Regions from separate parts of the Homo sapiens genome. Here regions 1 and 3 are each reported to be linked to region 2. Evidence: microRNA targets listed by miRTarBase, many of them from high-throughput screens and not tested one by one. Region 2 holds a microRNA gene; each other region holds the end of a gene's coding sequence.
The links. The annotated mature microRNA hsa-miR-6832-5p reads AGUAGAGAGGAAAAGUUAGGGUC and lies in region 2 at 2,579-2,601, shown strand. An mRNA with a match to its seed (bases 2 to 7 or 8) in the 3' UTR can be bound and repressed. Matches are read on the target gene's strand: a 7mer-m8 pairs with bases 2 to 8, a 7mer-A1 pairs with bases 2 to 7 and ends in A, and an 8mer does both.

Region 1 (10,658 bases), not on the chromosome of region 2:
CACTTTGGAAGGCTGAGGCGGGTGGATCACATGAAGTCAGGAGTTTGAGACCAGCCTGGCCAACGTGGTGAAACCCTGTCTCTACTAAAAATACAACAATTAGCCAGGCATGGTGGCACATGTCTGTAATCCCAGCTACTCAGGAGGCTGAGGCAGGAGAATCGCTTGAACCTGAGAGGCGCAGGTTGCAATGAGCCGAGATCGCACCACTGCACTCCAGCCTGGGTGACAGAGCGAGACGCTGTCTCAAAAAAAAATAATAAAAATAAGTAAATAAATGAAAGTTTAAAATGGCAAGAGTGGCCCAATCTAGAGAAAATGTAATTTGGGAGGGAATAGCTCTCCCTTTACTGTAGCCTTATTATTATGGTATCGACAAAGCAATGTCATATTCTAACTCTGCAGAGATAAAATTTTAAGGGGCAAAAGTCCAAGGCGGAAGTCAAAAGTTTTGCAAGGAAATCGATGAGGTTGGTGATCTGAGCTGGGCGAGGTTGGACAGGTGGGTGCCACGGTCCAGGTGTCTGACTGTCTCTGTCTGGCAAGTAAGCAGAGATCTAGAGCTGTCCTGTGAATTAAGTGGGAGATTGGACAGGGGTGCACACTTGTGTATTGAGGAGAAGGTCGTGGACAAGCTGGGGCAGAGAGCTGGCAGAGAGAATACCCAGGAAGATTTTTTTTTTTTTTTTTTTTGAGACGGAGTCTTGTTCTGTCGCCCAGGCTGGAGTGCAGTGGTGCAGTCTTGGCTCACTGCAACCTCTGTCTCCTGAGTTCAACCTATTCTCCTGCCTCAGCCTCTGGAGTAGCTTGGATTACAGGCCGTGCCACCATGCCCAGCTAATTTATTTATTTATTTTTTTAATAAAGACGGGGTTTCACCATATTGGCCAGGCTGTTCTCTAACTCCTGACCTCATATGATCCCCTCACCTCGGCCTCCCACAGTGCTGGGATTACAGGCGTGAGCCACTGCACCTGGCCAGGAAGTTTTTGTTTTTTGTGTTTTTTTGAGACAGAGTCTCGCTCTGTCCTCTAGGCTGGAGTGCAGTGGTGCAATCTCGGCTCACTGCAACCTCCGCCTCCCGGGTTCAAGCAATTCTCCTGCCTCAACCTCCTGAGTAGCTGGGACCACAGGCGCACACCACCACGCCCGGCTAATTTTTGTATTTTGTTTGTTTGTTTTGGGGACGGAGTTTCGCTCTTGTTGCCCAGGCTGGAGTACAGTTGTGCAATCTCGGCTCACTGCAACCTCCACCTCCCGGGTTCAAGCAATTCTCCTGCCTCAGCCTCCTAAGTAGCTGGGACCACAGGCGCACACCACCATGCCCAGCTAATTTTTGTATTTTGTTTGTTTGTTTTTGGGATGGAGTTTCGCCTTGTTGCCCAGGCTGGAGTGCAATGGCGCGACCTTGGCTCACCGCAACCTCCACCTCCCAGATTCAAGTGATTCTTCTGCCTCAGCCTCCCGAGTAGCTGGGATTACAGGCATGTGCCACCACGCCTGGCTAATTTTGTATTTTTAGTAGAGACAGGGTTTCTTCATGTTGGTCAGGCTGGTTTCGAATTCCTGACCTCAGGTGATCCACCCGCCTCAGCCTCCCAAAGTGGTAGGATTACAGACACGAGCCACCGTGCCCGGTCAATTTTTGTATTTTTAATAGAGGCGGGGTTTCCTCATGTTGGCCAAGATGGTCTCGATCTCTTGACCTCATGATCTGCCCACCTTGGCCCCCAAAGTGCTGGGATTATAGGCATGAGCCACCACGCCCGGCCGAAGATGCTTTTAGCAGGAGAAGGATCAAGCTTAGATGCAGGCTTGGGAAAATAGGTAACTTGACCAAAGGGAGCAACATGAGATTCCACACCTGAATTTTGTATACAGTTTATTCAGCGGATTGGGACAGGAGCAAAAATAGATTTTCTAGGAACTACGGACTCCTGTGATTGGAGGGGTAGACAAAGTACAGCAGCATCAGACAAGCCCTTGCTGAGGTGCTGGGCGAGAAATCTCAGAGGTCAGGTAGAAGGCCCCTGTATGAAGAGGGAAGGTTTGGGAGGGCAACCTGACTTGTCTTCAGAAAAAGCTGGAACTAGTTGGCTTAGTGGTCAAGAGAGACTGGGTTGAAAATGAGGAATCAGCCGGGCGCGGTGGCTCACGCCTGTCATCCCAGCACTTTGGGAGGCCGAGGCGGGCAGATCACGAGGTCAGGAGATCGAGACCATCCTGGCTAACAGGGTGAAAGCCCGTGTCTACTAAAAATACAAAAAATTAGCCAGGCGTGGTGGCGGGCGCCTGTAGTCCCAGCTGCTGGGGAGGGTGAGGCAGGAGATTCACTTGAACGCAGGAGGCAGAGGTTGCAGTGAGCTGAGATCACGCCATTGCACTCCAGCCTGGGCAACAAGAGCGAAACTCCGTCTCGAAAAAAAAAAAGAAAAAGAAAAGAAAAAAGAAAGAAAAAGAAAAATTAGAAAAATAAACTTTTCTTTCTTTCTTTCTTTTTTTTTGCGATGGAATCTCGCTCTGTTGCCAGACTGGAGTACAGTGGTGTGATCTCGGCTCACTGCAACCTCCACTTCCCTTGTTTAAGCAATTCTCTTGCCTCAGCCTCCCTAGTATCTGGGACTACAAACACGCGCCACCACGCCCAGCTAATTTTTGTATTTTTAGTAGAGATGGCGTTTCACCATGTTGGCCAGGATGGTCTTGATCTCTTGGCCTCGTGATCCACCAGCCTCGGCCTCCCAAAGTGCTGGAATTACAGGCCTGAGCCACTGCGCCTGGCCAACTTATCTATTTTCTTTTGTTGTCTGTGCTTTTGGTGTCATATCCAAGGAATTATTGCCTAATGCAATGTCAAGGAGCTTGTCTTCTGTTTTCTTCTGAAGGTTAAAGTTTTAGTTTTTTTTTTTTTTGAGACAGAGTCTCACTCTGTCGCCCAGGCTGGAATGTGGTGGCACAATCTCAGCTCACTGCAACCTCCGTCTACCAGATTCAAGCGATTCTCCTGCCTCAGCCTCCTGAGTAGCTGGGATTACAGGCAAGTGCCACCATGCTCGGCTAATTTTTGTATTTTTAGTAGAGACAGGGTTTCACCATGTTGGCCAGGCTGGTCTCAAACTCCTGACCTCAAGATCCACCTGCTTCAGCCTCCCAAAGTGCTGGCATTACAGGCGTGAGCCACCGCTCCTGGCCATTTTAGCTCTTAAGTTTAGGTCAGCCGGGCGCTGTGGCTCACGTCTATTATTCCAGCACTTTGGGAGGCCAAGGTGGGAGGATCACTTGAGCCCAGGAGTTCGACACCAGCCTGGGCAACATGGAGAAACCCTGTCTCTACAAAAAATAAAAATTAGCCAACTGTGGTGGTGTGCACCTGTAGTCCCCCTACTACTCTGGAGGCCAAGATGGGAGGATCGCTTGAGCCCAGGAGGTCGAGGCTGCAGTCAGCTGTGGCACACTTCTTCACTTCAGCCTGGGTGACAGAACAGGACCCTGTCTCAAAGCAAAAAAAGTTTAGGTCATTGATCCATTTTGATTTAATTTTTGTATGTGGTATGTGGTGTAAGGTAAGTGTCCAACTTCATTTTTCTTTTTTTTTTTTTTTGAGACAGAGTCTTACTCTTTCGCCCAGGCTGGAGTGCGGTGGCGAGATCTTGGATCACTGCAACCTCCGCCTCCCGGGTTCAAGCGATTCTCCTGCTTCAGCCTCCAGAGTAGCTGGGATTACAGGTGCCTGCCACCATGCACAGCTAATTTTTGTATTTTCAGTAAAGACAGGGTTTCACCATGTTAGCCAGGATGGCCTCAAATTCCTGACCTCAGGTGATCCACCCACCTCGGCCTCCCAAAGTGCTGGGTTTACAGGCGTGAGCCACCGTGCCCGGCCCAACTTCATTTTTCTGCATGTGAATATTCTATTTGTCCAGAACCATTCGTTTTTGCTTGTTTGTTTTTTGAGATGGAGTCTGGCTCTGTTGTCCAAGCTTGAGTGCAGTGGCGAGATCTCGGCTCACTGCAACCTCTGCCTCCCGGGCTCAGATGATTCTCCTGCCTCAGCCTCTCCAGTAGCTGGAATTACAGGCATGCACCACCATGCCCAGCTAATGTTTGTATTTTCAGTCAAGACAGGATTTCACCACGTTGGCCAGGCTGGTCTTAAACTCCTGACCTCAGGTGATGTGCCCACCTCGGCCTCCCAGAGTGCTAGGATTACAGGCGTGAGCCACCACTCCTGGCCCCATTTGTTGAAAAGATCATTCTTTCCACCATTGAATGATTCTGGCACCCTTGTTGAAAACCATTTGACCATATATTGAAGTGTTTATTTCTGGGCTGTCTATTTAACCCCATTGATCTCTGTGTCTGTCTTTAAAGCCAGTGCCACACTGTTTTGTTTTGTTTTGTTTTTGAGACAGTCTCACTCTGTCAGTCAGGCTGGAGTGCAGTGTCGTGATCTCAGTGCACTGCAACCTCTGCCTCCCGGGCTCAAGCAATTCTCCTGCCTCAGCCTCCCGAGTAGCTGGGATTACAGGCTTTTGCCACCACACCCAGCTAATTTTTGTATTTTTAGTAGAGATGGAGTTTCACCATGTTGGCCAGGCTGGTCTTGAACTCCTGACCTCAGGTGATCCACCTGCCTCAGCCTCCCAAAGTGCTGGGATTACAGGTGTGAGCCACCATGCCTGCCCATGCTGTTTTGATTATTGTAGCTTTGTGGTAAGTTTTTAAATTGACAAATGAGAGTCCTCCAACTTTGTTCTTTTTTTTTTTTTTTTTTTTGAGATGGAGTTTCGCTCTGTTGCCCAGGCTGGAGTGCAATGGCGCGATCTTGGCTCACTGCAAGCTCTGCCTCCCGGGTTCACGCCATTCTCCTGCCTCAGCCTCCCGAGTAGCTGGGACTATAGGCGCCCGCCACCACGCCCGGCTAATTTTTTGTATTTTTAGTAGAGACAGGGTTTCACCATGTTAGCCAGGATGGTCTCGCTCTCCTGACCTCATGATCCACCCGTCTCGGCCTCCCAAAGTGCTGGGATTATAGGCATGAGCCACTGCACCCAGCCTTTTTTTTTTTTCTTTTTTTTTTGAGATGGAGTCTTGCTCAGCTGCCCAGGCTGGAATGCAGTGGTGCAATCTCAGCTTACTGCAACCACCGTCTCCCAGGCTCAAGCAATTCTCCCGTCTCAGCCCCCCGAGTAGCTGGGATTACAGGCACCCGCCATCACGCCAGGCTAATTTTTTTGTATTTTAGTAGAGATGGGGTTTCACCATGTTGGCCAGGCTGGTCTTGAACTCCTGACCTCAGGTGATCTGCCGGCCTCAGCCTCCCAAAGTGCTGGGATTACAGGCGTGAGCCACTGCACCTGTCTTCTTTTTATTTTTGGAGATGGAGTCTTGCTCTGTCGTTGAGGCTGGAGTGCAGTGGCATAATCTCAGCTCACTGCAACCTCCACCTCCCAGATTCAAGCAATTCTCCCTGCCTCGGCCTCCCGAGTAGTTGGGATTACAGGTGTCCACCACCACACCTGGCTAATTTTTTTTTTTTTTTTTTTTTGCGACGGAGTCTCGCTCTGTTGCCAAGCTGGAATGCAGTGGCGCAATCTTGGCTCACTGCAACCTCTGCCTCCTGGGTTCAAGCAATTCCCCTGCCTCAGCCTCCCGAGTAGCTGGGACTACAGGCACGTGCCACCACGCCCAGCTAATTTTTTGTATTTTTAGTAGAGATGGGGTTTCACCATGTTGGCCAGGATGGTCTCAATCTGCTGACCTCGTGATCCGCCCGCCTCGGCCTCCCAAAAGTGCTGGGATTACGGGCATGAATCACCGTGCCCAGTCTTTGTTGTTCTTTTTTTACCTTTTAATTATTTTGTTTCTTTTACATCTTTTTCCTTTTTATGTTTTCTATTTTATCTTTAGTCATCAAGAAGTAAACTTTTTTTTTTCCAAGATTGTTATGGCCATTTGGGTTCCCTTAAAATTCCATAGGAATTTTAGAATTATGTTTTTCTATTTTCCAAAAAATGCCTTTTTTTTTTGAGACGGAGTCTCGCTCTGTCACCCAGGCTGGAGTGCAGTGGCTCGATCTTGGCTCACTGCAACCTCCGCCTCCCAGGTTCAAGTGATTCTCCTGCCTCAGCCTCCGGAGTAGCTGGGATTACAGGCACCGACCACCAGGCCCAGCTAATTTTGTATGTTTAGTAGAGACTGGGTTTCACCATGTTGGCCAGGCTGATTTCGAACTCCTGACCTCAAGTGATCCTCCTGCCTCGGCCTCCCAAAGTGCTAGGATTACAGGTGTGAGCCACCGTGCCTGGCCAAAACCTTGTTTCTACTAAAAGTACAAAAAAAAAATTAGCCAGGTGTGGTGGCGTGGGTCTGTAATCCCAGCTACTAGGGAGGCTGAGGAAGGAGAATTGCTTGAACCCGGGAGAGGGAGGTTGCAGTGAGCTGAGATTGCCCCACTGTACTCCAGCCTGGGCGACAGAGTGAGACTGTCTCAAAAAAAAAAAAAAAAATTAAGGGAAGGACTGAAACATCGACCTGCCTTTCTATACGAACAGTGCCACTGTGTAGCCAAAGAGCACGTGGGAGGCAACTTCCACTTCCTGAAGTGTTCCCTGCGGCGGACGAGGACAGAAAGTGACCTGGGCTGTTCCATACCCAGGGGAGTGGGGGATCCGGATAAGCTTGAACGCCCACAGCTGCCCGCTGACAACACTCAGGACAGGCACCGCATGCCTCTTCCTCAGGAAACACCACTGCCTGAAAGCACTCGTGCCCACAACCAACCAAACAGGATCTGGGGAAGCCTCTAAATCCGTGCACCGATTGGCAGAAGTTCAGAGGAAAACGTTAACAGGTACAGAATCCCCACAAAGACGAATTTCCTGGGACAATCTACTTTCTTCAGAGATGAATTTCAGAGAAGATGGAGGGGAGGCCACTCTTTGGCACCAAGGGCTGCACGCCTGGGTGACAAAACCATGTAGAGAGGATGGACGGTGGCTGCAGAGCCTGTGGAGGGGCTGCTCTGTGCGGGGAGCCGCACCCGGGGCATGCGGAGGGTACTGGAGAGTCGGTTCAGGGGTGGTGGCCGCAGGTGTTTGCTTTATAGCATTTAAACTGTGCACTTGTTTTATTTTATTTTATTTATTTTTTTTGAGATGGAATTTCACTCTTGATACCCAGGTTGGAGTGCAGTGGCACAATCTTGACTCACGGCAACCCCTGTCTCCCGGGTTCAAGCGATTCTCCTGCCTTAGCCTCCTGAATAGCTGGGATTACAGGCGCCCACCACCACGCCCGGCTAATTTTTGTATTTTTAGTAGAGACGGGGTTTCACCATGTTGGCCAGGCTGGTCTTGAACCCCTGACCTCAGGTGATCCGCCCACCTCGCCCTCCCAAAGTGCTGGGATTATAGGTGTGAGCCGCTGTGCCCAGCCTGCATTTGTTTTTTGTTGTTTTCTATGAATGTATTATTTTAGCTATTGGGGTATTTTTTAAGGGGACGGAGCCCAGAGGACTTGGTGACTGTTTTGAGCATGTGGGGGTGAGCTGGGTGACTCGTCCCCCAGGCTCTGACACAGGAGCTGGGAGGATGGGCAGATGTTTACCACGGCCAGTGTGGTGGGACACACACACCTGAAAGCCTGGGACTTGGCCTCCACCCTGCTGGCACCATCCCTCGGCCTGGGCCACGCCCTGCTGCAGTAACACCCAGTGGGGCTTCAGAAGCACAACATCCTTCCAGGTCTTTATTGACGCCAGGCACAAGTTGCCGTGAGGGGTGGCGACCCTAAGGGGGTGAGTGGGGTCCCCCACCGAGGTGAACCCTGATGGCGGCTGTTTGCCCAGGGCCAGGCCTCTCCAGGCAGGCGGAGGGCCAGGCCTAGGTCCAGCAGCAGCTTGGGTGGCAGGAGGGTCACCAGCTCAGGATGCCAGGGCAGTACTTGTCAATGAGCCCCTGGTAGTAGGGCCGCAGCTTGTCCACGTCCGGCAGGTCCGGGCACTTGGTGTAGAGGTCGAACTTGCTGCAGCAGGGAGGGGCGGTGAGCCCCGTGAAGAACCCCCAGGCCCCCCACCCAACCCCCTCTTTCACTCCCACAACACCCCTCGGCGGGTAGCGGGGCGTACTTGAACTCCCGCACCCAGGGCAGCATGGCCAGGTCCTGCTGGCTGCACAGCTGCTGGTAGTCGCGGCCCGTGTGCCAGGGGTAGAAGGAGTGGAACCGGATCATGTAGAAAGCCTGCGGGCAAGGCCACCCAGCGGCTCACTTGGGGCTGCAGGACCGGGCCTGGTGGACGGGCTGCGTTGCCCCTCCCCCCACCTACCTCAGGGGGCAGTGAGAACTTGTTAAACTTCATCACCTGGTACATGTACTCTGTGGGGAGAGGGTGTCACCAGCAGGCACTGCCTCTGCCCCACCGCCCCCCACCGTCCCCCACCGCCCCCCACCGCCCCACTGCCCGCCTCTGGCCTCACCATCATGGCCCCAGGACATGAGGACCCTGTCGAGCCCACAGTGGGGCTGATACATCCCGAGCTCTGTGCTGCAGTGAGATACCAGGGTGAGGAGGGCTCAGCAGCCGCCCAGGGAAGGGGGCCCAGCCCTCAGCAGCAGGGAGCACCTGTATCGAGGATCCTGGAGGTCAGGGTTGTCCTGGAAGGTGGAGTCGCAGAAAACCACGGAGGCCTGCGGACGGCATCCGACGGGGAAGGTGTCGCCGACGACAGCCCACTGCAGAGGGACAGGAGGGACGGGAGGCCATGGGGGGAGTGGGGGAAGGTGTCGCCGATGACCACCCACTGCAGAAGGACAGGAGGGACGGGCGGCCATGGGGGGAGTGGGGGAAGGTGTCACCGATGACTGCCCACTGCAGAGGGACAGGAGGGACGGGCGGCCATGGGGGGAGTGGGGGAAGATGTTGCCGATGACTGCCCACTGCAGAGGGACAGGAGGGATGGGAGGGACGGGAGGGACAGGAGGGACGGGAGGGATGGGAGGGACAGGAGGGACAGGAGGGACAGGCAGCCATGGGGGGCCGTGGGGGAAGTGGGGGAAGGTGTCGCCGACGACCGCCCACTGCAGAGTGACAGGAGGGACAGGCGGCCATGGGGGGCCGTGGGGGGAGTGGTGCGGGGAGGCCGTGGGGGGTGCACTGGCCTGTCCCCCAGGTAGTATCCCAGGCCAAGCACCGAGGCCACCAGAGGGACAGGCAGCCGTGGGGGGGGCCGTGGGGGGTGCACTGGCCTGTCCCCCAGGTAGTATCCCAGGCCAAGCACCGAGGCCACCAGAGGGACAGGCAGCCGTCGGGGGGCCGTGGGGGGTGCACTGGCCTGTCCCCCAGGTAGTATCCCAGGCCAAGCACCAAGGCCACTCCACCCCCACCTTGCCTCAACATGCAGCCTCCTCACCCTCCACTTCCAACTCTTACCTGGGGCTCCCCGAACAGGGCCAGGACCTTCCCCAGGTCGTGCAGGAGCCCGACGAGGTGGAACCAGTCTGGGAGGGGGATGGACAGGGCAGGTTGGGGACTGCAGGGGCCAAGGCAGAGGATGAGCAGGTTTGCGGGGCTGAGAGCCAGGAAGGGTCCAGGGCCTGCTCCCCAACCCAGGCAGGGCTGCTGGAGGAGGCCTGGGCCCACTACTGTCCCCTCCCACCCTACAGGCTGCTGCATTCTGCCCCTTGGAGGCAGCACCTGCCCCCCTGCAGCACAGCCAGGGCTCACCCTTGTCTGGGTGGGCCTTCCGGATGCCCTCCGCTGTCTGGAAGGCATGGAAGGAGTTGGGGAAATCTACGTCCGGGTCCGACTCATCCACCAGCCCATCCAGCAGGTCCACGGCCTCCATGACTGTCATTTTCTTGTAGGAGAAGCCCCCAAACTGGGCATGCTGGCGGGGAAGGAGAAGGCAGTGTGGCCCAGGGTCAGCAGGCCCACCACACAGGCCTCTCCATCCCCTCGGCGCCTGGTGGGCTCATGGGGCTGAGGGCAAGGGTCCCTCCGCGTTTGCACGGGGCGGCAGGAAACGCCTACCTTGCTCCTGACGAAGTCCACTGTCTGGTGCGTGTGCATGAGCTTGTAGGTGGTGAAGACACGGTCCAGGAGGGGACCTGACTGCAGGCCGGAGGGTCAGTGGCGCCACCCCCACCCTGCACACGAGGCCCCATGCCTCCCCTCTCCCAGGCAGCCCCACAGGGTGTGATGGGGGTGGGAGTTCCCACAGGGCACCCCCTGGAACTGTGTGAAGGGCAAGTGCTGCTCCCCAGGGTGTGGATGGGGGAGAAGGGGGGCAGGACGGCAAGGTACTCACCGTGTAGTTCCGGAAGCTGGCCTTGTCTTTGGCCACCTCTGGGTCCACATCAGGTCGGTAGACCAGGGAAGGGTCTGGGCCCTGGGTAGGTGGAGGATTGAACCTATTTCACCATCATGTCAGCTCCACGAGGAAGCACAGACATTCCCAGGGTGGCTGCAGACTCCAAGCCTGCCTCTGCTCGAGGGCTGGTGGGTGACACGCGAGGACACAGCCTCTCCCACGCCATCATCCCAGCCCCTGCCCTGGCCTCAGCGAGTCCCAGGAGCTCTCACTCCCAGGTCCTCATCTGCAAAGCGAAAGTCAGCAGACGTCTGCTTCCGGGGTACAGGGGACACCACGCCTGAGCGG
Region 2 (9,728 bases):
TGGGCCCCCAATCTCTCGCTTTCCTCTGGAGGAACCAGGGCCCCGTCCACTCCCCTGGCCCCCAGGCAGTGATGAAGTGGCCAAGATACAAACTCCACCACCCAAGAAGGAGCCCCCTAAGGAGGAGACTGCACAGCTGACGGGGCCAGAAGCAGGCCGAAAGCCTGCCCGCGGAGTCGGGAGTGGAGGCCAGGGCCCCCCACCACCACGCAGAGAGAGTCGCACAGAGACCCGCTGGGGCCCTCGTCCAGGGAGCAGTCGTCGTGGAATCCCTCCAGAGGAGCCAGGGGCCCCACCCCGCCGGGCTGGGCCTATAAAGAAACCTCCACCACCTACAAAAGTAGAAGAGCTGCCTCCCAAGCCCCTCGAACAGGGGGATGAAACCCCCAAACCCCCAAAGCCAGACCCACTCAAGATAACCAAGGGGAAGCTAGGGGGCCCCAAGGAGACCCCACCCAATGGAAATCTTTCCCCTGCCCCAAGGCTTCGGAGGGACTATTCGTATGAAAGAGTGGGTCCTACCTCTTGCCGGGGTCGGGGCCGAGGCGAGTATTTTGCCAGAGGGAGGGGTTTTCGGGGGACCTATGGGGGACGAGGGCGGGGAGCCCGAAGCCGGGAATTCCGCAGTTACCGAGAGTTTCGAGGAGATGATGGGCGTGGAGGTGGGACAGGGGGACCAAACCACCCTCCTGCTCCCCGAGGCCGCACTGCCAGCGAGACACGGAGCGAGGGTTCAGAGTATGAGGAAATCCCCAAGCGGCGCCGGCAGCGGGGCTCAGAAACAGGCAGCGAGACCCATGAGAGTGATCTGGCTCCTTCAGACAAGGAGGCTCCCACACCCAAGGAGGGAACACTCACCCAGGTCCCTCTCGCTCCCCCACCACCAGGAGCCCCACCTTCACCAGCCCCAGCCCGCTTCACTGCCCGGGGTGGGCGAGTCTTCACTCCCAGAGGGGTGCCATCTCGCCGGGGCCGAGGAGGAGGGAGGCCCCCTCCTCAAGTTTGCCCAGGCTGGAGCCCTCCAGCCAAGTCTCTGGCTCCCAAGAAACCTCCCACAGGCCCTTTGCCACCAAGTAAGGAGCCTTTGAAAGAGAAGTTGATCCCAGGGCCTCTGTCCCCTGTGGCGCGCGGAGGCAGCAATGGAGGTAGCAATGTGGGCATGGAAGATGGGGAGCGACCCCGAAGGAGGCGACATGGGAGGGCTCAGCAGCAGGATAAACCGCCTCGTTTCCGGAGGCTGAAGCAGGAACGGGAGAATGCCGCAAGGGGGTCTGAGGGCAAGCCCTCCCTAACCCTTCCAGCCTCCGCTCCTGGACCTGAGGAGGCCCTCACAACAGTCACAGTGGCCCCAGCACCTCGCCGGGCAGCTGCCAAGTCTCCTGATCTGTCAAACCAGAACTCAGACCAAGCCAATGAGGAATGGGAGACTGCATCAGAGAGCAGTGACTTCACCAGTGAGCGCCGAGGGGACAAAGAGGCACCCCCACCAGTACTGCTGACACCCAAGGCTGTGGGAACTCCTGGGGGAGGTGGAGGTGGAGCCGTACCAGGTATTTCAGCCATGTCCCGCGGAGATCTGAGCCAGAGAGCCAAGGATTTGAGTAAACGGAGCTTCTCAAGTCAGCGGCCAGGCATGGAACGGCAGAATCGGCGCCCTGGCCCAGGGGGCAAGGCTGGCAGCAGTGGCAGCAGCAGTGGAGGAGGCGGTGGGGGTCCTGGAGGAAGGACCGGGCCAGGACGAGGCGACAAGAGGAGCTGGCCCTCTCCCAAGAACCGAAGGTGGGTAGGAACAAACAAATTTATTGTGGTTTAAAAATTGGAGGAGGGGGAAAAAGCCTGAGGGAAAGATAAGTTTGGGTGGAGTGGAGATTGTGGCCTGAGGGGCCATGGGCTCTAGAATGTCAGTAGGATTTCCATGTCTGGCTAAGGCAACTGGAAAGCGGTTGGTAGGGTGTTAGAGTCAAGAACACCCACCTATGTATTCATTGCTGGTTCTTTGCTTTCCAGTCTGTGCATCTGTATGCATAGGAATCCTTAGAAGGACTCAAAAACACCTGGACTTTAATAGGGAAGAGAATAGGTTGTAAGCAGAAGTTGGGAAACATAACTTGTGGGAAAAAGTAACGATTTAGTGGATACTGGAGCTAATGCTCTGTTTTCTCCAGTCGTCCTCCAGAGGAGCGTCCCCCGGGGCTTCCCCTGCCTCCCCCACCTCCCAGCAGTTCTGCTGTCTTCCGCCTGGACCAAGTTATCCACAGCAACCCTGCTGGCATCCAACAGGCTCTGGCCCAGCTTAGTAGCCGTCAAGGGAGTGTAACTGCACCAGGGGGTCATCCAAGGCACAAGCCTGGGCTTCCCCAAGCCCCTCAGGGCCCCTCTCCTAGGCCCCCAACCCGATACGAGCCCCAGAGGGTCAACAGCGGCCTCAGTTCTGGTAAGCTGGAGGGGTTATGGGTGGGAATATCTCCATCCCCAGAGAAGGTCAAGTGCTGGAGGGAGCGGGTGGAGAACCTGGCCTAGGGACCCTGCTGCTGGGTGCGTTTCTGCAGGGAGCAAGGGTAGAAGAATTGGGAGGTGGAGTAGAGAGGAAAAGTTAGGGTCAGTGGCAGAGCCAGGCAGATGCTGACCCTTTTTCTCTTTCCCAGACCCCCACTTTGAGGAGCCGGGGCCAATGGTGAGAGGGGTGGGTGGGACTCCTCGGGACTCTGCCGGGGTTAGTCCCTTTCCCCCTAAACGTCGGGAGCGGCCTCCCAGAAAACCAGAGCTGCTACAGGAGGTAAGGGATGGGTTTGAGATTGTGCTTCACTGCACTCTTACTCGTGAAAATTCTTCTGGGTTATGTTTTCTCTGTTTTCTTTCCTGTTTCTTTCACTGTGTTTTTACTCCAGAATTCTCAGTATTAGTCTCCCATGTGTCTCCCTTGTTGTCCCCACACCCTGTGTCACCCCACTCTGTCCTGGCTTCCTATAATTCCCAATTCCCACCCAATTCATGTTTTGCTTCTGGCCCTTCTCATCTGTAGGAATCTTTGCCACCTCCTCATAGCTCTGGATTCTTGGGCTCTAAGCCTGAGGGCCCAGGCCCTCAGGCAGAGTCCAGAGATACAGGCACAGAGGCCCTGACCCCTCACATCTGGAACCGTTTACATACTGGTGAGTAAAGCTGAGTGAAAGGACTATGGTAGAAGGGTTAAGAATGAGAGGGGCTTCTGAACTGTCATCTCCTCACTTCTCTTCTGGTTGGTGCTCCCTTCTCCAGCCACTAGCCGAAAGAGTTACCGGCCCAGCTCCATGGAGCCTTGGATGGAGCCCCTGAGTCCTTTTGAGGATGTGGCTGGCACAGAAGTGAGTGAGGGTGGGAGGGTGTGTCTGAGCTGGGACTTTTTTGAGCACTGGTCATACCCCCCACCTGCTCTGGGTTGAGTCTGGAGCTGTTCTCTCACTTGGCTGTCCCCTTTCTGCAGTTTGTATGTGTGCATCAGTCAGGTATTGGGGTGCTTTCTACCCTGACTTAACTAGCTCCTTCTCCACTCCTCTCAGATGAGTCAGTCTGACAGTGGGGTGGACCTGAGTGGGGATTCTCAGGTGTCATCAGGTCCCTGCAGCCAGCGAAGTTCCCCTGATGGAGGACTCAAGGGGGCAGCAGAGGGACCCCCCAAGAGGCCTGGAGGCTCCTCACCCCTGAATGCTGTTCCTTGTGAGGGTCCACCTGGCTCTGAACCTCCTAGGAGACCACCACCTGCCCCCCACGATGGGGACAGAAAGGTAAAAGACCAAAAAAGGATAAGGGGAATGTTTCCAGGAATCTGACTTTGGCCCTACCTTTTTCTGCTTTTTCTCTCTGCGTGTGTGTTCTGGGCATTCCAATTTGGATTTCCCTTTCCCTCCCCCAATGCACTTTACTGTGTGCCCAATCCAGGAGCTGCCCCGGGAGCAGCCTCTGCCCCCTGGCCCCATTGGCACAGAACGATCACAGCGTACAGACCGAGGCACAGAGCCTGGCCCCATTCGGCCATCCCATCGACCTGGTCCCCCAGTCCAGTTTGGCACTAGTGACAAGGTCTGTGTGGGCTGGATCTGGGTATCCTGAGTTGGGTGGAGAGAAGGGAAGGACTAAAGGTGGGACATAGAGGACACATGTCTGTCACGGGACAATGTCTCCTGCCTTCTTGTGATCACAGGACTCAGACTTACGCCTAGTGGTAGGAGACAGCTTGAAAGCAGAGAAGGAGCTAACAGCATCAGTCACTGAGGTAAGTGGGAGTAAGAGTTTGGTGGAAAGGCCCAAGATTTCTGGGGAAGATTGCTGGGAGTGACCAGGGCGTCCAGGATGCCAGACATCCCTCTCCACGAGGCCTCTCCTTCCCAGGCCATTCCTGTATCACGAGACTGGGAGCTGCTTCCCAGTGCTGCTGCCTCTGCTGAGCCACAATCCAAGAACCTGGATTCTGGGCACTGTGTCCCGGAGCCCAGCTCCTCAGGCCAGCGCCTGTATCCTGAGGTTTTCTATGGCAGTGCTGGGCCTTCCAGTTCTCAGGTAGGCCCCGCTTCCCATTGCATGACCCCTTCAGTGAATAATAATTTTTTTCTGCCTGGTATGTATTTATAATCAAGCCTTTCTACGTTGCAGAGTTGTGAGATACCACTTTGTCACATCATTTTTCTCCCTACTTTTTGCTTCTATGGGTGGGATGGTGATCTTTTTTCTTGACCACAGATACTAAAGCTGTTTCAACCGTGCTCCTCTCCTGCAGATCTCTGGGGGAGCCATGGACTCTCAATTACATCCAAACAGTGGAGGCTTCCGCCCTGGGACACCCTCACTGCACCCTTACAGGTAAGACTCGATGCCTGTGGATCACAGAAGTACTTGGAGATGTGTTTCGGGGAGAGGGAAGGGGAAGACACAGTTCTAGGGTACTAGAAGCTAGTGGACTTAAGGCATTGCTAGGACTCTGGCTTCCTAACAGCTTTTCTCCCCACAATTTATTTTCAGATCACAGCCCCTATACCTACCCCCCGGCCCAGCCCCTCCCTCAGCACTGCTCTCTGGGTTAGCTCTCAAGGGCCAGTTTCTGGATTTCTCCACAATGCAAGCTACAGAGCTGGGGAAGTTGCCGGCTGGAGGAGTTCTCTACCCTCCACCTTCCTTCCTCTACTCTCCGGCTTTCTGCCCCAGTCCTTTGCCTGACACATCGTTGCTTCAGGTAAGAGGGGGGCAGGTATTAGATATTGGGGGATAGGGTAGGGAGAATGATTTTGTGGGGGTTGATATATTTCTCCCTGTTTCCCGACAGGTACGCCAGGATCTGCCATCCCCTTCGGATTTTTATTCTACTCCTCTGCAGCCTGGTGGCCAAAGTGGCTTTCTCCCTTCAGGGGCTCCTGCCCAGCAGGTATATTGTATCTTCACACTTCCCCTTCATTTGATTTCTCTGTCCAGTTGCTGGCTTTGATTTTCCCTGGTTTTCTGACATTCCTCCCTGCCCCCAACATGCACACCCAAATTTCTTGTTACAGATGCTTCTACCCATGGTAGACTCACAGCTGCCTGTGGTGAACTTTGGCTCCCTGCCGCCAGCACCACCTCCTGCCCCACCTCCCCTTTCTCTGTTACCTGTGGGCCCTGCTCTGCAGCCCCCCAGCCTGGCTGTGCGGCCCCCACCTGCTCCTGCTACTCGGGTGCTGCCTTCACCTGCCAGGCCCTTCCCCGCTAGCTTGGGGCGAGCAGAGGTAAGGTACAGGAACTGAGGGGCTAGGGAGCGCCAAGACTTGGGAGTAGGGATTCTGTATTTCAAGGTAGGCAGCTCATGATTTTTTTCCCCTCAGCTGCATCCAGTGGAACTAAAGCCGTTCCAGGATTATCAAAAACTGAGCAGCAACCTTGGGGGACCTGGATCATCACGGACTCCCCCAACTGGAAGGTGAAACGGAATAGGGATGTGGACTTTCCAAGTGCTTCCTTACTTTGGAACCAGGGTCTGGATCCTAGGCTTGCCTTAGACGCCCTTCTTCCCTTAGGTCCTTCTCTGGCCTCAATTCCCGTCTCAAGGCCACGCCTTCCACCTACAGTGGAGTCTTCCGCACCCAGCGCGTCGACCTTTACCAGCAGGTGAAGGAGAAACCCTTGTGGCCCCAACTCTAAATTCGAGTTGCCACCTGATTTCCTGTCCTTCCGTCTCATCGCTGACCTCTCACTGTGACTCACTGTTTAACACATGCCTGTCCCCTAGGCCTCCCCACCAGATGCCCTGCGCTGGATACCTAAGCCTTGGGAGCGGACAGGGCCGCCACCTCGAGAAGGGCCCTCCCGACGGGCAGAGGAGCCTGGGTCCCGAGGGGACAAGGAGCCTGGGTTGCCCCCACCCCGCTGAGGGAGTTCCTCTTGCCCCCTACCCCCGGGGCTTGTATATAGATTATAAATATATAAGGGGGAAAGGGGTGGGCGGGGAGGGGTTCTGGGGCTGGGGCCTCACTTCCCCTCCTCCCCCTTCCCCTGGTCCCCTGTCCCTGGGGCTGTTTGTTAAAAAAGAGTAATAAAAGGATTTAAAAAAAAAAACTTCTACAATGATTTGGGGGATGAGTTGTTTGCATTGTCTTAAAGCATGGTGCTGAGTGATCTGTAGTTTCAGTCAGGGAAATATTCATTACTTATTCCAGTGAGCTGTTGAAACTAAAAACATGACCATCGTATTGGATCTTTAAATTTTTGTGAGTCTGGAATTTGGGCTGAGCTCAGCTGGATAAATCTGCTTTTTTGTGCCAGTGAGCGAGGTCAACTGGTTATCAGTCTGCAGCTGACACCTGGGCTGGTCCCAATATGGCTTCCTTTGCATATCTAGGGCCTTGGTGGGACATCTGTAACATTACTGGGTTATCAACCAGTGTCTTCACATGGACTCTCCAGCAGGCCTGTTAAATGTCCGTGAGCTCATGTTCCAAGAGGTCTAGCTGGAATTTTCTAAGCTTATGCCATGCTTAGTTGATAAGAGCACTAAACTAGCCAAGGTAGGGGATGGGGGGGTTTAGAAGGGACTTCAACTGCATCTCAAAGGGACTAGCAAAGAATTTGCAGCCATGGGACTTCAGTTCTTTATGATGAACTAAGGGGAAATCTCTGTTAAGGCCTCAATGTTGGAGCACACTTAAGGGGCTCTTTGAATTGGATAGACCAATTCCAGCATTGTCAAACTAAGTGGGATTTCACATGGTAACGCTGCATGCTAGTTATGCTAAAGACTATACTTAGGTCTGCAGCTGCTCAGAAACTTTTTTTGATGGGTAATTTGAGAGCTCTATGCTAGTGTGCACCTGGAATATGCTCCCAACTCAAAATACAGGTTTTTTATTTATATATAAAGTGCTTTCGCACAAAAAATACAAACATCAGGCTGGGCGCGGTGGCCCACGCCTGTAATTCCAGCACTTTGGGAGGCCAAGGCGGGTGGATCACAAGGTCAGGAGTTCGAGACCAGCCTGGCCAATATGGTGAAACCCTGTCTCTACTAAAAATACAAAAATTAGCCGGGCGTCGTGGCGGACGCCTGTAGTCCCAGCTACTCAGGAGGCTGAGGCATGAGTGAGAATCACTTGAACCCGGGAGGTGGAGGTTGTAGTGAGCCGAGCTCGAGATCGGGCCACTGCACTCCAGCCTGGGAGACAGCAATACTCTGTCTCAAAAAAAAAAAAAAACAAACATCAAAACTGGCTTGTACAATTTAGCGTGCTGAGTAGAACACAACAGTGTTCCAAGGAAGTATTAATTTAAAAAAGTTCACACAAGATTAAGGGACACACTACCTAATGGAGACAATGTAGAGAGAAAGCAGCCAGAAAAATCCGACTTTTATTTCTTAAATACTGTGAAGGAAGAGGGGGGAAACGGTCCCCTGATGAGGAAGGGCCATAGAGCAAAGAGCTAAGGATCATCAGCAAAGGCCCGCTGGGCATTGGGGAAGCGCTGGGGACTGTAGTTGGGGTCTTCCTGCAGTCGTTTTTGTATATCAGACCGGAGCTAAAGAGAAAAAGTAAGCAGGTTGGAGAAACGCTGGCCAAGTCCCCATGATCCCAGCAAGCACACAAGGCCATCCCTCAGAAGCTAACATTTCCCCCCCCAAGCACACTGTCAAATAGCCCGGGGTGGCACTGTCAAGCCTTCCCAGATGCCAAAGGGGAAAACAAATGGTAGCACCAGGCTGACCAGTTCATCGCTGAAGGGATCCAGGGAAGAGGGACCCTAGCCCAACCCCTCCCACTAGACCATCCCTATTCTGCTTCAAGGTGGCACCTGCTGCCTGTAGCTCTCCTGAACCTCTGGTGCCTCCAGGTCCCGGCTCAGGCTCTCGGGGCTCGTCAGGGGCCGAGCTCCGGCTGCCTTAGCTGCCCGGCTCACAGCCTCTGAGAGAAGCAGCTGGGGGCCCTCACCCTGCATCGTCTGGGGGACAGGGGGTTGGGAGGGAAAAGAGGATCAACGTCAGATCCAGTGCCACCATCCGGCTCACCCTTTCCATGAGTCAACCACTCCACTGAGTCTCCATGCTAGTGGAGAGAGGGGAAATTAAGAGTCCAGGATGTGGTTTTTACAGCAGAAATGCCTTCCTAATTCTCTTTGGCACTAGCCAAAACTAAAGTGAATGTGCTTGAACGTGCTCTTCAAAACGAAAGGCAGAAGGGGTCAAGCCATCCGGGATTCAGAGCTAGGTAATCCACAAGAGGAAACCCACCTTAAAGGAAAATGGGATCTAAGCACATGGGGATTAGGCAGCTGAGCAACTAATACAGGACTGCTAGCAAACAGACTAAGGTCAAGTCCTGTATGGTTATGCAACAACCAAGAGCAAGTCTGAATCCCAGAAAAAGTTTCCTCATTAAACGAGGGGAGGGGAGACTGAATAACAAGAGCTCCCACCATCTCTACATAGTTTGATTCCAGGCATGACGGGGAAACCTGGATAGAGAGAGAGGCTTAGGGAAGAGGAAAACCAACCTTGCGTCTCTTGGCAGGCATACCACTGAGGTAGGCATCACTCAGAGGGGGCTGCGGTTTCACCTTCCGCTGGCTCTGAATGTCCTGCTGGATAATAGGGACCCATTCCTGGGGAGGAAAAGAGAAAATAGTAATGTCCTTGACTTTCAGCTGCCATGACCCACTGGATTACTTCCTGACACTTACTGGGGGGACTGCAGCTGCCCAAGGTTCTGTCTCAGCTGAAGCTCCATCCTGTTCATCCCGGGAGCCCCCCTCAGGAGCAGGAGGTGGACCTCGGGACATGGCCTCTTCTGCTGTTGTTCCAGGGGCTGGGGAAGCATTCTCCCGCTGGGTGTCAGATGGCGGGAAGAGCCAGGCTTCAGAATTTTTAGCCTCCAAACCTTTCTCCCCCAGCCCTCCACTCCACATTATCTGGCCCCTCAACCTCCCCCTCTCTAGAGTACCTGAGGCTCAGGGGAAGCTCTTTCTGCTCCCTGAACTTCCATTGGCTCCTCAGGAAGTGGCTGTGAAATTAAAGAACACCATACTTCCTCTCAGATCTCTCCAGTTCTCTCAAGTACCCTGACCCCATCGCCCAACAGGTCCCTTACCTGGGGGGGATCACCAACCCTGCGAACGTATCTGAGAATGGCATCAGGGCCTACAGGCATGTGCTCCAGTACCACCTGAAGCCTCAGTCCCATCATAGTGGTCAGCCAGCTCACCAAGGAGGGATTCACCCCACGAGACATACGACGCTG
Region 3 (10,140 bases), not on the chromosome of region 2:
AGGCCCGCGGGTTGTCGCAGGGCCTGCGCCTCAGCCCCACCCTGTCGCCTGCCTGTCCTGTGCCACCCCCCGGCGTGGCAGAGGAGCAGGGTGGAATCCGTGAGGCCTCAGATGTTACCCCAGAGCAGTGTGAAGGTGGGCTTTTGTAGCAGAGTTTGCGTTTTTATAGACAAGAGCTGGTCTGTCGTGGACCTGCAGGAAAGGGGTCGGGAGCGAATCTGCATTCACTGCCCATGGTACTAGGCACCTGGGGTCCATCAGTGGCTCAGCAAAACCCCCGCCTTCTTGGCGCATGTGCTCCAGAGGAGAGACTGACAAGTAATTGTACGGCGGCACGCGAGGTGGAAGGGAGGGGAGAGCAGAAGGAAGGGGCTCGGCTCAGGTGTTGAGGGGGTTGTCAGTTGGTATTTCCAACACGTGGTAATGATGAGTCTCGCCATCCAGGGACTCTGGTGGAAACGTAGGCTTTCTTCATCAATATCAGCTGAAGGTCTCAATGTGAGGGGAGGGAGGAGGCTGTGTTGCTGTCCTGGCTGCAGGTGTTGCCGGGGCTGGGGTCCTGCGGGTTTGAGGATGGAAGGGCTTTCTGAGGAAGAAGCATCAAAGTCGGGCTTGGGCTCTTGGCCTCCAGGCTGGTGGTCCCTTCAGTCCCAGCAGCCCAGGTGTGTGAGGCTTTGTACCTAAGTCTGCGACCGGACTCTGGGCAACGCGGGAGGAGAGCGCAGACAGACCCAGCCCATTCTCCGCAAATCCCAGTCTGCTCCCGTATTAAGAGATGCAGCGTGGCCCTCTCTCTACTTCAGAGCTTCCCCCAAGCCCCTGTGACCCACAGAGCCAGGGCCCTGCTTGCTGATGATGATAGCAGGACTAAAGCCCACCAACCCACAGGCTGCGCGGTCACCCGGTCCCACAGCTGTGCCTACCCTCAGCCTCTCTCCTGTCCCAGGCCCAGTTATGTCGCCAGCGAGGAGAGCCGAATCCTTGTTCTCACTGAGCTGCTGGAGAGGAAAGCCCACTCTCCCTTTTACCAGGAAGGCGTGAGCAACGCCCTGCTCAAGATGGCTGAGCTGGGGCTGACGCGGGCGGCCGACGTTCTCTTGCGGCATGGGGCCAATCTCAACTTTGAAGGTCAGCGAGAGCCCCGGGGGTGGGCAGGTGGCTTAAACGCGGCCCGACGCTGGGTGGGCGCCCATGTCCCCAGCCTTGGCTTCTACCATCCTCTGAGGAGTGACTTCCCCCCCTTTATTTCCTGGGTGGCTGCAACTAAGGAAACTCCCATTGGGTGGCCTCCCACCCCCTGCGGGTTTTCACATGGCTCTTCCCACCTCTGTTCCAAGAGCGAGTGTTGCTGCTTCTACCATGTGATTGATTAGCAAACTTTCCCCAGCTCCCAGATTAATCCCCACTTCCATTAATGCAAAAATGCGGCTGCTGGCACTGTGCCCAGAGCTAAGGGAAGGTAATTTTCTGCTACTTACTCTGAGCCAATTTGTTTTTTTTTTTCTCATGCCGTAGGGAGAGGGGAAAACAGGCTGCATTAGGCATAAATCACCACAGGACACCCTGGCTCCTGGCTCCTGAGTGCCAGGGATGGAGATGGAGCCGAGCTCCTTTCTCTGTGTTTTTCAGCCCAGGGAGGGCAGGGTTAGTCGGCAGACAGGCAGGGCTGCCTTGTGACCTAATAGGGGCCTGAGACAGCCAGGCACGTCTCCTTTCCCCATCCGAAGACGGGCTTGGAGTCTGCTGGGCTCCTGGAGGGTCAAGGAGCTGAGACGGGAGGGCCGGTTCTGAAGCCAGTGACTTGGAGACCAGCTTGGAGAACCTGGCTGTTACCACCAGGCCTACAAAGCAGAGCCGCCAGAGCTGCTGTGTAGCGCGGCCTCCCAGCCATTCTGAGAGGGTGCGCCCCGTTTTATGGTCCCTTCTTACAGAAGAGGAAACTAAAGCCCCCAACAGCTTCAGTAGCGTGCCCACTAGAACACCCCGAGGGCCCTCTAGTATCTGGTGAGGACAGCTCTGTCCTAACCCTTGATGGTGACAGGAGGCTGGGCCTGTGCTTCTGGACACTTTAGGTGGGAGTTTGGGGCTGGGCTCTGGGTCCGGGGGCCCCATAAGAATGCGGACAGATAGGACCCACATGAGCTGTGTCTGCACCTTCAGACCCAGTCACCTACTACACGGCCTTGCACATCGCCGTCCTGCGGAACCAGCCGGACATGGTGGAGCTGCTGGTGCATCACGGGGCCGACGTTAATCGGAGGGACCGGGTAAGTGCCAGGTCCAGCTTGCTTTGAAGCAGGGTTGGGCAGGGGCCTGAGCAGCTTCCCAAGCCAACCTGGCTGTGCTTCCTTGGCTCAGATCCACGAGAGTAGCCCCTTGGACCTGGCCAGCGAGGAGCCTGAGCGCCTGCCCTGCCTGCAGCGCCTCCTGGACCTTGGAGCTGATGTCAATGCCGCTGACAAGCATGGTGGGTGCCTCCTGCAGGAAAGCAGGACAGCTGGGCCCCCAGGCACCTTGTGGGGGACACCCAGGGTGCCCCAGGACAACAGCTAGGTGGGCAGACTGGATGCTGGCCCTGGCTGGTGGCACAGCATGGCTGGGCACACAGGGATTCTGCTGACTTGCTGAGCTCAGAGGCTTCAGAGAGGCAGTGCAGTCATTGTCCCTGTGCTGGCCCTCAAGGGCCTTCTATAGGAAGAAATAGGGCATGTGTGCACTTAGTTTCCAAGAAACAATGGCTTCCCATTGGGAGAGGCCCAGCCAACATCTCAGGTAGCATCTTGGGGTCCAGAAAAATCCTACCTTTCCTGGCCTTTCCGCTCCCACTTCTCTGGGTGGAAAGGGAATGGCCAGAAGCCTGTCACCCTCAGCCCTCACCTGAGCTGAGAGTTGTCTCTGAAAGTTCATCTTCTGATCCTCTGAGTGTCTGGATTTCTGCCACCTCCTCTGGGTTGCCCTGACCTGGGCTTCCTGGCCTCCTGCTCCTCCTTGCTCTCCCTCCCTCCCTAGGAAAAACTGCTCTGCTCCATGCTCTGGCCAGCAGCGACGGGGTGCAGATCCACAATACTGAGAACATTCGTCTCTTACTGGAAGGAGGTGAGGCTGGCGCGCTCCTAGGCCTCGTCCTCTCACCCGCCCCTTCGATGTGTGCTGTTGCTTTGCCAGGGTTGAAGGCCTTCTCCCAGCATCTCTTGTTCTATGGCTCTTCTAGGGGCAGACGTCAAGGCCACCACCAAAGATGGGGACACAGTGTTCACCTGCATCATCTTCCTGCTTGGTGAGACCGTGGGAGGGGACAAAGAGGAGGCCCAGATGATCAACCGCTTCTGCTTCCAAGTCACACGGCTGCTGCTGGCACACGGGGCCGACCCCAGCGAGTGCCCAGCCCACGAGTCCCTCACCCACATCTGCCTGAAGAGCTTTAAACTGCACTTCCCTCTCCTGCGCTTCCTCCTGGAGTCCGGAGCCGCCTACAACTGCTCCCTGCACGGTGCGTCCTGCTGGTCTGGCTTTCACATCATCTTTGAGAGGCTCTGTTCCCACCCAGGCTGCACGGAAGACGAGAGCCATGCGGACCTCCTGCGCAAAGCTGAGACTGTCCTGGATCTCATGGTGACCAACTCTCAGAAACTCCAGCTGCCCGAAAACTTCGATATCCACCCTGTGGGCAGCCTGGCGGAAAAGATCCAGGCCCTCCACTTCTCCTTGAGGCAGCTGGAGAGCTATCCCCCGCCCCTCAAGCACCTGTGCCGTGTGGCCATCCGGCTCTACCTTCAGCCGTGGCCTGTGGATGTGAAGGTCAAAGCCCTGCCTCTGCCCGACAGGCTGAAGTGGTACCTCCTTAGCGAGCACAGTGGCTCCGTGGAAGATGACATCTGATAGGTCTCAGGCTACAGGAACGGGGGACACGGGCAGCTCAGGTCAGCCTGTTGGTAGATGCTGGGACAGCATTAGAAGAGGGTCTTTTTGATCTGGGAGATGAGACGGGATCCTTCATGAGAAAAGCCAGCCAGGTAGAGCCTGAAGCTGTGATCACTCCAGTGGTGAAGGGTGCAGCTCTGGTTCTTCCAGAGAGACTGCCCCCTTCCCTCCAGCGGCACTCCAAGTCCCCCCCATGTTGGAAAGAGGAACAGGGCTTGGATTGATGTTTATACCCTCTGAATTGGAGGGCAGTGCCAGGGCATTTGCAGAAGCTGGGAAGGACCAAGCCTCAGCACCCCAGGGCTGCGGGGCTCTTGTTGGCCGCACGTGGCAGTGCAGCTGGAGAGGAAGCCTGGGGCACGTCCTGTGCGGTGCCACCAAGGCCCCACCCCTGCCCCTTTTCCTTCCAGGTTCTGTTACTCACAGAAGTGTTTCTGGTGGGCTCTGCGGGAGAAGACACTAAGGGCCCCACAGGCTTGTTTCATGGTGTTGCAAGCCAAGCTGGCCCCTGCCTGTTCCTGTAGCTCTGGGGCCAGGTCAGCCGTGGCCCCACCTACCAGAACTGTGCTCTGCTGGCAGCTGTGCTTTTGCCAAACCCAGGGCCTCAGCGACCATGACTTCTGCTAAAAAGCAATCATGAGTGCGTGGCTGGGGACAGACCTCTCTGAAGTGTCTCCTGTTGTGAGGGGCTCACTTTGGAGCCACTGAAGAGCCGACTGTGCCACCCACTTGCGAGCCTCAGTCCCTTCCAAGCTGCACTGGTCATTGGGAATTGTGTAAACACCTCTGGGGATAAGCTGAGGTGACTAAATGATATATTTATATTATAAGATTAAACTGACTTTCTTGGCCTTAACAAGGTCCTTATATAAAATTTCCACCCCGCCCCTCCATAGTTCAGGATAGAGGCTCCCACAGCAGCCGGTAAGGAAGTGGGTGGCAGGTGTGAGGGGATGCTGTGTTTGGGGGGTTGTTTCCAAGTCCCTGCAAAGAAGCACCACTCTAGACTGGCAAGGGCCTCCACAGTGTGGAGGTCCCATTTTATTATTTTTTTTTTTCGAGACACTCTGTCACCCAGGCTGGAGTGCAATGGTGCAATCTCGGCTCACTGCGACCTCTGCCTCCCAGGTTCAAGCAGTTCTCCTGCCTCAGCCTCCTGAGTAGCTGGCATTATAGGTGCCCACCACCATGCCTGGCTGATTTTTGTATTTTTAGTAGAGACGGGGTTTCGCCATGTTGGTCAGGCTGGTCTCAAACTCCTGACCTCAGGTGATTCGCCTGCCTCGGCCTTTCAAAGTGCTGGGATTACAGACATGAGCCACTGTGCCCGGCCCCCATTTTATTTTAGTTTTATTTTGAGACAGAGTCTCGCTCTGTCACCTAGGCTGGAGTGCAGTGGCGCAATCTCACCTCACTGCAAGCTCTGCCTCCCGGGCTCACCCCATTCTCCTGCCTCAGCCTCCTGAGTAGCTGGGACTACAGGCGCCCGCCATCACGCCTGGCTAATTTTTTTTTTTTTTGTATTTTAAGTAGAGACGGGGTTTCACCTGTTAGCCAGGATGGTCTCAATCTCCTGACCTCGTGATCTGCCCGCCTCGGCCTCCCAAAGTGCTGGGATTACAGGCGTGAGCCACCGCGCCCAGCCCCATTTTATTTTTTACTTTAAATGCCTGCCAAGGAGCAGCCTCAAGCCCAGAGAAGACTGAGGCTACGGGGAACTTCCCTTGCTGCAGGCTGTTGTAACACTTTAAGGGCCCCAGGTCTCCACTGCCAAGCAGGACTTGGCACATGAGCACCCACCCCACAGCACCATCAGGCAGCACCCATGGGCTCCACCAGCCCAGCTCTGTCCCTCCCCTAGGTAAAGATCACACTGAAGTCTTCAAGTCCCCAGCAACCAAGTTGGGGGTGGTTTCCTTCCTCTTCAGGCAGCCAGGCCCATGGCTGGAAGGCCGGGCTGGAGGCCCAGGGAATCGGTTACTGATGTGGCCACCCTATTCCCACATGGGGAGCACCAGGAGCCCTGGAGCCCCTTCCACCCAATCCCATCTCGCAGGAGAGCAGGGTCTGGGCTCCTGCCTCACCGCTGGTTCAGCAGCACCCTCCCCGCCGGGTCCCACCTTGCCTTTTGAAGAAGAGCCCGCATAATGAGTGGACGGCAGACAGCTATATTTAGTGGTGCCTCGACACTCACGAACCGCCAGCGTGGCGCCTGGATCTTGCCCAGCTGCCAGCTCCCCCCACCAGGACTGTGGTTCCTCAGTTTCTCCTGCCAGCCCCGGCTCATCTCAGGGCAAAGCTATAGACATGGTAGATCTCATCGGGGAGGTTCTCCTGCCTCTCCTCGGCCAGGAGGCTGAGGCCTGCACTGCAGATGATCCTGCGGACCACGTCAAGGTCCCGGCACACGCTGCTGTCCACGTCGTCCAGAATCACGCCCTCCTGGGCCATGTTGTCTTTGATGACGATGATGCCGTTGGGGCGGAGGCTGCCCTTGCAGCGCCGCAGGAACTCGGCCAGGTGCTGATCGGTGAGGTGGCCTGGGGAGGGCAGAGGCAAGGTTACCAGGGCACCATGCAAGCGGATGTCGGCACTGGATGGGATGTACTTCTCAGCCCCGCTGAGCCCCTCATTTGTGCCCAGCATTTTGTGTGCACACATGGCCTCATTGGCTCTCAGTCCCGAGAGATTTACTAAACCCCAATTCATAGAATAGGAAACTGTGGCTCAGAGGTCATCTACCTAAAGACACATTAAGCCAGAATTTGACTTGACGGGATGGCTTACAAGTCCTGCCTGATACCTACACACCATGATGCCCCACCCCTGCCAGGCTTGGATCGGAGGAGTGAACCTGGGCTAAGAGTTTGGCATTGCAGGAGCTCCCAGAGAGACTGCCTTCCCTACACTAGAAGTCCCCACAAAGGCTTCTGAGACCACAAAATACAAGGCCAGACCTAGAGTGTCCACAGCAGGCCTGTGCTGCCCGCCTCAGGAGGTGGCCGACTGCTGCTAGCGGCCTGCCGCCACGTCAGCAGCCCAGGGCACAGCGCTCGAGGTGTGCTGTTAGGCTAAGAGGGTGCAGGGCTAGACACGAAGCTTAAACTATTCATCTTATTAAAAATAAAACCCTTATAAAACTCCTCACTTTGAATGCAGTAAGTTATTGGCCATTAAAATTTTTTCAACAAAAAACTGCACCCAAATGGATGGTAGCAGGTATTCAACTGAAACAAAACCTAGAAGGAAGAAATCTACCTTTTAGGCCGAGCCTGTCCCTCAGTCCTGGGAAGTACGGGGTGGGGGTGGGCCTGGGCGGGGTGGGGAATCCTCACTGGCCCACTTGCTGCAGGAGTGCAAAGCCCTGGTCCTGACACCTTATGGGGAACGCGAGTGGCAGGAGACATACAGGTGAGCAGGGAAGGGCGGTGGAACCCTCACCTATCACCCACTGGATCCAGATCACGTCGTAAGAGTCCGGCTCCGGGGTGAAGTCCTGGAGCCCACAACAGAAGTAGTTCCTCACCCTCTTGCCCTCCTCCCCCAGGTAGGTCTTGGCTTGAACCAGGAAGTCCTCCGTTATGTCGACCATATCCACCTCTCTGAACAGCGGCAGGAGCAGCCGCTTGGTGATCCTCCCAATGCCAGCTCCACAGTCCAGGGCACAGGACGTTCCTGTCTTGTTCGGGCCTTCCTGAAAAGCAGAGGCATATAACCTATCAGAGGGACCCTGTCACCGCACGTGCGGCCCTTCCTCACGAGCCCTAGGACTTAGACTCAAGTCAGGATTCCAGGACTCCGCACAAGCTGAGCACTGGTGGGGAGGTCTGTGCTGGCTGCCAGCTTGTACGGAGTCGAGGGGATGAGCATGGGAGGACACACTGCTGGGCCACACATTCCTTTATCTTTGAAAGTTCAGGTTGCATTCTGCATTCTGTTCAGGTTGGAATGCAGTGGTGGGATCATGGCTCACTGTAGCCTCGAACTCCTGGGCTCAAGCCATCCTCCATCTTCCCACCTCAGCCTCCCAAGTAGCTGGGACTACAGGCATGCGCCACCATGCCCAACTCATTTTTTTTTTTTTGTATTTTTTGTAGAGACGGGGCCTCGGTCTGTTGCCCAGGCTGGTCTCAAACTCCTGGGCTCAAGCAATCCTCTCACCTTGGCATCCCAAGGGGCTGGGATGACAGGAGTGAGCCACTGCCCCTGCCCTGGGCCACACATTTCTAAATGAAAGCTAATTTCCACTTAAAGGTGATAACTTGAACAGGTGCACTAATCTCTCCTGAGTCTCCAGGTAAACAACGGCAGAGAGGAATGGGGAGAATGGAAGCGGGGCAACAGGTGAACAAGGGTGCAGAGAGGGAACATGGAGGGAGGGGAGGCGCTGGATGGAGCAGGTGGCCAACAGCAGCCTCCAGTGCCAGCCATGAGACAAGAAGGTGGGGGGCTCCAGGACTGGGGGTCCCAGCCTGGTACAGAAAAGGCTGGGGGTGGAGCAGAGGGTGGAAACCATGGCACATAACTAGGAGTCTTCGTCCAGAATAGCCAACACCCTCAGTCCAAACACCCGTGGACATGGCAGGAGAGCAAGGGTTTCGTCCCTGGCAAAACCCAACAGTTGAAGAGAGGTTTGCCCAATTCAGGCACCTCAATTCTGCCTAACAGCCAGCTCCTGTCTGGTAACCCTGAGGCTAAGTCCACAATCTAGAAGTTACCCCACTGTGCCCACCCAGCCCAGCTCCTCAAGGCTTTGGGGTAGGTACCAAGAGATAGCCAACAATCCTGCAGTGTTACATGTGTAAAAGGTGGCACCCCACATGGACTCGGCAGTGCCACCAGAGCCACAGCCTCTCCTGGAGAGCACGCCAGACCTGCCTACCCTCAAAAACCTCTGCAGAAACTTCCGGGAGCTGTTGATGTCGATGCTGGAGATGTGGCCATACCCCCCAAGCATGCCGTCCACCGTGGGTGGGATTTGTTTCCAGTAGGTCTTGGCCTTGGAATAGAATTGCTTCTCGTCTTCTATCACCTCGCTCGTCATGCTGTCACCAACCACGGCTCTACTCAAGCACCACGATCAGCAACCGCGACTCTCCTGGGTAAGGAAGGGGGCGTGAGTCAGCGGGCCAGGGACCTGGCAGAAAGGCCCCCAGGGCAGAGGGCCAGTCTCACACCAGGCTTCACAAGTCACACATCCTGCTGAGTGCAGAGAGAAGTCCAGGGTCCCCAAATCTGCTTCTACCCCTTGGATAACAGCATCTTCTGTCTTTTGCACTCAGAGCACCCGCCCCAAGTCCTGGCTTCAAGTTCTTTTACATTTTTATTTTTTCTGGAGTGCAGTGGTGTGATCATAGCTCAATGCAGCCTCCAACTCCCGAGCTCAAGAGACCCTCCCACCTCACCCTCCGGAGCAGCTAGGACTACAGTTGTGTGCCACCATGCCTGGCTAATTATTTTTTGTAGAGATGGGGTCTCACTATGTTACAAAGGTTGGTCTTGAAGTCCTGACCTCAAGAGATTCTCCCACCTTGGCCTCCCAAAGTGCTGGGATTACGGGTGTGAGCCCATGTGCCTGGCCTGGCTTCAAGTTCTTGATATGCTCTATATGACACCTGACTCAGTGGCTTCAGGGCACAGAAAACCCTGATCAATAAAGAGAAACGACCGCAAAGCCGAGAGCACCAGCAGACCCTGGAGGGCCAGGGAAGCTTCCACGCCTCCCTTCCTCTGGCTCAGAGCACAGCAACAACTCACGGTGGGGTCCAGTCCTCCGTTAACAAGGAGTGGGGACTCTGTGCCAGGCACCGGGCTGTGAACCAGGCAGCCAGCCAGGCAGAAAACAATTCTACAGACACAACCACACCTGCAGGGAGGGCTGCAGAGGAGAAGCGCCAGTGCCAGCAGAGCACGGAGGGAGGAAGTGGAGTCGGGTGCGGGGACCAGGGAAGGCATCCCTGAGGAGGGGACGCGTAAGCTGAAACCGATGGATGGGCAAGAATAAGCGCAGTAGGTGGAGGGCGACGGCACTGCTCCTGGAGGGAAGGACAGACAGCCCTCGCGGCTGCCAGTTCCTGGTCTCACAGTCAACTCTAGCAGTTTCGACTGCATCCTACAGAGCAATGAGTCAACCACCCTGAGGCCCAACAGAGAGTGGCCCGGGAAGACCGATGCTTCTGAAGACTGCTGGCGGCGGTGGAGATGGCAGGGGGATGAGGA

Region 1: miRTarBase lists MIOX as a target of hsa-miR-6832-5p. Seed matches in the 3' UTR shown: 7mer-m8 at 7,319-7,325.
Region 3: miRTarBase lists NTMT1 as a target of hsa-miR-6832-5p. The part of its 3' UTR that is shown has no 7-base or 8-base seed match.

What each region holds. Positions count from the first base shown.
Region 1 is chr22:50,487,115-50,497,772 of GRCh38, reverse strand. MIOX (myo-inositol oxygenase) reads right to left here. Exons shown (of 10, transcript NM_017584.6): 2 at 10,308-10,388; 3 at 10,031-10,111; 4 at 9,725-9,887; 5 at 9,431-9,498; 6 at 8,624-8,733; 7 at 8,478-8,545; 8 at 8,327-8,376; 9 at 8,129-8,241; 10 at 7,125-8,025. The coding sequence ends at 7,917. Among named protein-coding and RNA genes, the nearest start is that of MIOX, 5.6 kb to the right of the region's middle.
Region 2 is chr6:31,631,214-31,640,941 of GRCh38, forward strand. It overlaps MIR6832 (microRNA 6832), which reads left to right and starts at 2,574; the gene lies at 2,574-2,645. It overlaps PRRC2A (proline rich coiled-coil 2A), which reads left to right. Exons shown (of 31, transcript NM_004638.4): 16 at 1-1,779; 17 at 2,166-2,434; 18 at 2,646-2,776; 19 at 3,023-3,152; 20 at 3,259-3,344; 21 at 3,540-3,764; 22 at 3,919-4,059; 23 at 4,181-4,252; 24 at 4,369-4,536; 25 at 4,754-4,836; 26 at 4,996-5,206; 27 at 5,297-5,395; 28 at 5,520-5,732; 29 at 5,829-5,923; 2 more. The coding sequence ends at 6,373. BAG6 (BAG cochaperone 6) reads right to left here. Exons shown (of 26, transcript NM_001387994.1): 21 at 9,579-9,725; 22 at 9,432-9,491; 23 at 9,172-9,315; 24 at 8,986-9,093; 25 at 8,287-8,433; 26 at 7,815-8,013. The coding sequence ends at 7,918. RefSeq lists a silencer at 3,466-3,629.
Region 3 is chr9:129,631,529-129,641,668 of GRCh38, reverse strand. NTMT1 (N-terminal Xaa-Pro-Lys N-methyltransferase 1) reads right to left here. Exons shown (of 4, transcript NM_014064.4): 2 at 8,804-9,019; 3 at 7,363-7,615; 4 at 5,534-6,461. The coding sequence starts at 8,965. The coding sequence ends at 6,205. ASB6 (ankyrin repeat and SOCS box containing 6) reads left to right here. Exons shown (of 6, transcript NM_017873.4): 2 at 947-1,128; 3 at 2,161-2,267; 4 at 2,359-2,467; 5 at 3,010-3,096; 6 at 3,212-7,064. The coding sequence ends at 3,879. Among named protein-coding and RNA genes, the nearest start is that of ASB6, 5.6 kb to the left of the region's middle. RefSeq lists enhancers at 458-1,014, 1,015-1,572, 9,528-10,140.